Linked DNA regions of Homo sapiens. The protein of the gene in region 2 interacts with the protein of the main gene of each other region in a biochemical or structural test. Each region holds a gene or a part of one and is shown on either strand. Other genes may lie near its edges.

Region 1 (3,500 bases), on a different chromosome or scaffold from region 2:
TTACAGCTCCTAATACGGCGCATCTGGAGATGTCCGTTCCTCCCGGTGGGTTCGTGGTGTCGCTGGCTTCAGGAGCGAAGCTGCGGACCTTCACGGTGAGTGTTACAGCTCTTAAGGCAGCGCGTCTGGAGTTGTTAGTCCCTCCTGGTTGGTTTGTGGTCTTGCTGGCTTCAGGAGTGAAGCTACAGACCTTCGCGGTGAGTGTTACAGTTCATAAAGGCAGTGTGGACCCAAAGAGTGAGCAGTAGCAAGACTTACTGCAAAGAATGAAACAACAAAGCTTCCACAGCATGGAAGGAAACCTGACCAGGTTGCCACTGCTGGCTCGGGCAGCCTGCTTTTATTCTCTTATCTGGCCCCACCCACATCCTGCTGATTGGTCCATTTTATAGACAGCCAATTGGTCTGTTTTACAGAGAGCTGATTGGTCCGTTTTGACAGGGTGCTGATGGGTGTGTTTACAATCCCTGAGCTAGACACAAAACGTCTCCACGTCCCCACTAGATTAGCTAGATACAGAGTGTGGACACAAAGGTTCTCCAAGTCCCCACCAGAGTAGCTAGATTCAGAGGGTCGACTGGTGCATTCACAAACCCTGAGCTAGACACAGGGTGCTGATTGGTGTGTTTACAAACCTTGAGCTAGATACAGAGTGCCGATTGGTATATTTACAATCCCTTAGCTAGACATAAAGATTCTCCAAGTCCCCACCAGACTCAGGAGCCCAGCTGGCTTCACCCAGTGGATCCCACACCTGGGCCGCAGGTGGAGCTGCCTGCCAGTCCCGCGCCGTGCGCCCGCACTCCTCAGCCCTTGGGTGGTCGGTGGGACTCGGCGGCGTGGAGCCGGGAGCGGCGCTGGTCGGGGAGGCTTGGTCCGCACAGGAGCCCATGGCTGCGGGGTGGGGAGGCTCAGGCATGGCGGGCTACAGGTCCCGAGCCCTGCCCTGCCAGGAGGCAGCTAAGGCCCGGCGAGAAATCGAGCACAGCAGCTGCTGGCCCAAGTGCTAAGCCCCTTACTGCCTGGGGCTTGCAGGCCGGCCGGCTGGCCGCTCCGAGTGCGGGCCCGCCGAGCCCACGCCCACTCGGAACTCGCGCTGGCCCACAAGCACCGCGTGCAGCCCCAGTTCCCGCCCCTGCCTCTCCCTCCACACCTCCCCGCAAGCTAAGGGAGCCCACTCCAGCCTCGGCCAGCCCAGGAAGGGGCTCCCACAGTGCAGCGGTGGGCTGAAGGGCTCCTCAAGCGTGGCCAGAGTGGGCGCCAAGGCCGAGGAGGCACCGAGAGCGAGCGAGGGCTGTGATGGCTGCCAGCACGCTGTCACCTGTCACCAGGACTAGGCTCACTACAGTAAAACCCAGTACTGGGCAGAGCCTCATCACCCTGATACTAGACCAGTACCCACAGGCAGATCTCACCCCACCCTAGTGCCAGATGAGAACCCACAGCCCCAGTAACAGGGACTGGCGATCTGGCCCACATCACTACCTGACAACTACAGTGGCCCTGGGCCCTGAATAACTTCAGCAGCAGCAAGCACGCCATCACAGCTGTGGGTCTTGGGCGTGCCCCAGTGCTGTGCCAGTCTCGGCAGCTATGGCCTTCAGGCATAACCCAGGGCTGTGTCAGCCTCAGTGGCCAAAGAATTCCAACCACAGTGATGCTGGGCTTAGAGCACCCCCCAGCACTACAACAGCTGAAGCAGTCATGGGCTTAGGGTCCTGACCAATCAGCCTCTCCCTAATCTCCTATGGGTTTCCTGATGAAAGACGAGCCCAAACAAAGCCAGGCAATGAAGACTGGCTTAGGTACCTATGTCAATGCACAGACATTGACACACAGCCATAAGGATCAAGGTCAATCAGAGAAACATGACATCACCAAATGAACAAATTAAGGTGCCAGTGACTAACCCTAAAGATATAGAGATGAGGCCTGGCATGGTGGCTCAGGCCTGTAATCCCAGCAGTTTGGGAGGCTGAGGTGGGAGGATCACTTGAGCCCAGGAGTTCAAGACTAGCCCGGGCAACATACTGAGACCCCATCTCTAAAAAAAAATTTAGATGGTCATAGTGGTGCACGCCTGTGGCCCCAAATACTGAGAAGGGTGAAGGAGGAGGATCACTTGAGGCCAGGAGTTTGAGGCTGCACTGAACTATGATTGTGCCACTACACTCCAGCCTGGGCAACAAATGAGACCTTGTATCTAAATAAATAAATAAGATGAAATAAAATAATAATAATGGGTAACATCGAAGCACTATTTCTTATAAAAGGTGAAAGCCTTTTATATGTACTGTCTTATTTATCCTTACACAGCCATGTGAATTAATTACTGTTATATTTCCATTTGACAGATGAGAAAACTGAGATACAAAGAAGTAAGTGCCTTTCCCACTGGCAAGTGATGGGCCAGATGTAGACAAGCTGGACGGGGTTTAAGTCCAGCTAACATGCTGCTCAGAGTGAGGAATAAACTCAACCAAATCATTGGTGGGAATGTAAATTAGTAGAGCCATTATGGAAAACAGTATGGAGATTCCTTAAAAACCTAAAAATAGATATACCACATGATCTAGTAATGCCACTGCTGAATATATATCCAAAGGAAAGGGAATCAGTATGTTGAAGAGATATTTGCACTCTCATGTTTACTGCAGCACTGCTCATAATACCCGAGATACGGAATCAACCTAAGTGTCTATCAAAAGAGGAATGGATAAAGAACATGTGGACTATATACACAAAATGGGATGTTATTCAGCCATTACAAGAGAATGAAATCCTGTAATTCCCATCAACATGGATGAGCCTGGAGTACATTACGTTAAGTGGAATAACCTAGGCACAGAAAGATAAATACCACATGTTCACACTCATATGTGAAAGCTCAAAAAGCTTATCTCCTAGAAATAGAGAATAGAAAGCCAGGCATGGCAGTTCACACCTGCAATCCCAGCACTTTGGTTGGCTGAGGCAAGAGGATAGCTTGAAGCCAGGAGTTCAAGACCAGTCTAGGCAACATAGCATGTTGCCTAAATAAAATAAAAAATATTTTATTTTCTAAAAATAAAAATAAAATTAGCCTAGCATGGTGGCATGTACTTGTGGTCCCAGCTACTTGGGAGACTGAGGCAGGAGAATCAGTTGAGCCCAGGAATTTGAGGCCACAGTGAGTTATGATCGTGCCACGGCACTCCAGCCTGGGCAACAGGGCAAGACCCTGTCTCCTTTTTTTTTTTTGAGATGGAATTTCACTCTTTTTACCCAGGCTGGAGTGCAGTGGTACAATCTCAGCTCACTGCAACCTCTGCCTCCCGAGTTCAAGCACTTCCCCTGCCTTAGTGTCCCAAATAGTTGGAACTACAGGCATGTGCCACCACGCATGGCTAATTTTTGTATTTTTAGTAGAGACGGGGTTTCACCATGTTGGCCAGGCTGGTCTTGAACTCCTGACCTCAGGTGATCCACCCATCTCGGCCTCCCAAAGTGCTGGGATTACA
Region 2 (3,500 bases):
CGCCTTGCTGTAAGAAGAATGGACTGGACTCTTCCATTAAGAGGGAAGCATGGGCCAGGTGTGGTGGCTCACACCTGTAATCCCAGCACTTTGGGAGGCTAAGGTGGGCAGATCACCTGAGGTTGGGAGTTTGAGACCAGCCTGGCCAACATGGTGAAATCCTGTCTCTACTAAAAATACAAAAATTAGCTGGGTGTGGTGGCAGGCACCTGTAATCCCAGCTACTCAGGAGGCTGAGGCAGGAGAATCGCTTGAACCCGGGAGGCGGAGGTTGCCATGAGCTGAGACCACAACATTGCACTCCAGCCTAGGTGACAAGAGCAAAACTCCATCTGAAAAAAAAATAAAAAAAGGGAAGGATGGTGGAGAGAGTTGTTCTGAGAATGGAAGGAACAAGTCAAGAGTTGAAATTTAGGAAATTAACTTGCCAGGTACCATGGAGGGTCCATCGAGGATAGAAGAAGCTAGAGTAGTTAAGGATACTGCTGTGTTCGTTCAAGTGAGAAAAGGTGAAGTCTGATATAAAACAGATAGCAGTAATAGCAGCTAATGTTTTGGGGCATGTATTATGTGCCAGATAGTGAATTTTGTAAATGCATTTTCATTTAATTCTGACAGCAACCCTATGAAGTGTGATCTTGTTTCCTTTTTATAGTTGTGGAAACTGAGACACAGGGAGACTGAGTAAGTCTTTTCCAGGGTCACATTGTTAGTAGGTGGCTGAACCAACATGTGAACCTAGTGATACAATATTCCAGAATTCTTACTCTTAATCACTAAGTTTTACTAACACAGGGCATTTGGGGATGTATTAGAGAAGATGGCAAATTTGAGAGATGTATAATCAAAAGAACCTGGTGATTTTACAAGTAGATGTTTGCAAGCTAATTCTAATTATGGGTGAAATGGATATATGTTTATTCCATTGTCTTTTTAATTCAAAAAGTACATTGATTGATATTCTTGTGTATTTGCTTCATAGTAAGTCTTTTATTACATTATATCATTTAATCTTCTTAATAACTCTGCCAAGAAGTTTGATAATACCATTTCACAAATGAGTAAACTGAGGCAAATTATCCTGTTTGATGTCTGAGAGATAGTGATATACATTTTAAACTCACTGACTCAAAGACCTGTGAGCTTAACTACACTCGCCTGCTTTCATCTAAATGTTGTTGATGAATAGTGTCTTACTGGTCTTTTTCTTCTGACGTTTTTCTCTTTTTCCAGTACTCTCGCAAAAAACTCAAATTTAGTGCGACTTAACCTTTCTGGGTGTTCTGGATTCTCTGAATTTGCCCTGCAGACTTTGCTAAGCAGCTGTTCCAGGTATGAAAGATGTGAGACTTGATTATAGACTCTTATGTCAAACGTAAAATTATCCCTCACATCTGTATAAAATGGGATGAACTTTTTGAGCTTTTTGTACTTTCCAGGCTCTTGATTTGGTGAATGCAAAATCTTTTGCCCTCCTAACTTTCTGTCCAAACTCAGGAGCCAAGTCAATTGAGTTTGCAAGTGATACTTGTATAGTGATCTCTTTTTTGTTTATTTGGAACTGTTAAAATAAGGGAAGTGTAGTAGTGTCTATCAACAGTATGGTTGTAAGAAATTTGCTCACACTTAACTGTACATTCAGGTTTTTTCCCCTATGGTATCTGTAGACCTAACTTACAATTTTTTATCAAATTTGGTGTTTTATAAATATAGACCGTAAATTTGGGCAATTCTATTAACAATATCTTTCATAATAATGTCAGCACATAAAGGGTACAGAGTTACAGATATTGCTAAGTGAGGGGAGTACATGCTTTTTGGAATACACAGTACTAGGCATATGTGTGTTTTTTAAAAATATCCCTTGGTCTCCATGGTACAGCATTTGAATCTGTGTCTTGTTAATGGTCCATTTAAAATAGATTGCCTCTGGATATGCGTGTTATCAGTGAGATCAAATGTATAGCCCTATATTTAGTCAGCAGTGCCAGAAGTGGGGAGTGGGGATTAATGGTTGTATTTTGTCTCTGAAACCCTCGTTTTTGCTCAGTTAGCAGAAGCACAGTAAGACGAAGTGGCTTTTTGCAATATCAGCATCTCTTTATTAGGAATCCTCAGTGCAATCCATCAATTGCGTAAAACATCCTGAGTGATTGTTCAGTCTGTGTTGGGTGGTTGGTAGTTTGAGAAAGCAAACATAAAAGACTGGCATTTCTACCTGCAGTACTGGAATAAGGTTTGAGCCATCAGGTGCTTCTCTCCATTTCGAGGAGGAGGCACATTCACTAAGGCCCTTCTGATCCCCTGGCAACTTTCAGGGGCAAACAGGGTATACTTAGGTGACTAAAGGTAGCTACTGTTAGAGAAGCAGGTGTTCTGTGCATGAAATGATAAGGAATCCATGGTTTTATATTTTCTTTGTTTGCAGTTTGAGGCAAACTCATTCCCGTGTGATGGTTTCATATTTTGTTTATTACCCCTCTTTTGTGCAGACTGGATGAGCTGAACCTCTCCTGGTGTTTTGATTTCACTGAAAAGCATGTACAGGTGGCTGTTGCGCATGTGTCAGAGACCATCACCCAGCTGAATCTTAGCGGCTACAGAAAGAATCTCCAGAAATCAGGTTAGAGCTTCCAAGCCTGGACCACTGAGGCCTTCACAACATAATAGATGAGATTCATTGAGCTTCTCCTAATCATTCCTCCACATAAGTTTTCTCATTTAATCCAGTGCATGTGTTAGTCCCCTTTTTCAGATGAGGTAGCTGCTAATCAGAATGGTTAGGTAAAGGTAAACAGCTAGTGAGCTAGAGCCAAGGTTTGAATTCAGGATCTAACAGTAGAAACCTTTACACTTGAAAACAATGTATTTTTAAGCAGAAAAACTTTTAATCAACTAAATGGTTAGGTAAACCCCAACATAAAAATACATAAATGTAGCATTTGATTAGTATTAAGTAGTGGTTGTTCATTAGGGGCTATTTTGTCTGTACGGGGACATTTGTCAATGTCTGGAGACATTTTTTATTGTCACAGCTGTAGGAGTGCTGATGGTCTCTCATGGGCGGAAGCCAGGATGCTGGTGGACGGTGTATAGGATGGAGAATAGCATGCACAATAATCTGGTCCAAACATCAGTTCCAAGGTTGAAAAACTATTATAAACTCTGTTAATAAGTTCATATTTATGACTTTTACTTTTTATTCAGTCCAAGAGGGCAACGAGGATTTTTAGATGAAAACAGGCATTAGAAGTCAAAGGTAGCAGGGAGCAGTCTTTAAAAACCTTAATATTCAGTTACGCTTTATTTTACTTGTATGTTAATGAGAAAATCTTGATTTGCAAAGATAAGTGATTACAAATGGCAAGTTTTTTAAATGGCTTCACCGTCTCAGGCCAACATTCAGTTTGTGGGCTCTACAAAACCTAGTTAAACCAGCAACACACATCAACCATATCTTGATGTTAGTACTAGCTTATTTGAGTGTGTTTTGTTTATTA

The links.
Region 1: the proteins of SKP2 (region 2) and USP18 form a complex in vitro, tested with the Homo sapiens proteins (one study listed by BioGRID).

The regions. Positions count from the first base shown.
Region 1 is NC_000022.11:18,153,170-18,156,669, reverse strand, and holds part of USP18 (ubl carboxyl-terminal hydrolase 18), read right to left. Parts: intron 1-3,500. UniProt on the Homo sapiens protein: Interferon-induced ISG15-specific protease that plays a crucial role for maintaining a proper balance of ISG15-conjugated proteins in cells. Regulates protein ISGylation by efficiently cleaving ISG15 conjugates linked via isopeptide bonds.
Region 2 is NC_000005.10:36,169,111-36,172,610, forward strand, and holds part of SKP2 (S-phase kinase-associated protein 2), read left to right. Parts: intron 1-1,233; coding exon 1,234-1,332; intron 1,333-2,492; coding exon 2,493-2,623; intron 2,624-3,500. UniProt on the Homo sapiens protein: Substrate recognition component of a SCF (SKP1-CUL1-F-box protein) E3 ubiquitin-protein ligase complex which mediates the ubiquitination and subsequent proteasomal degradation of target proteins involved in cell cycle progression, signal transduction and transcription.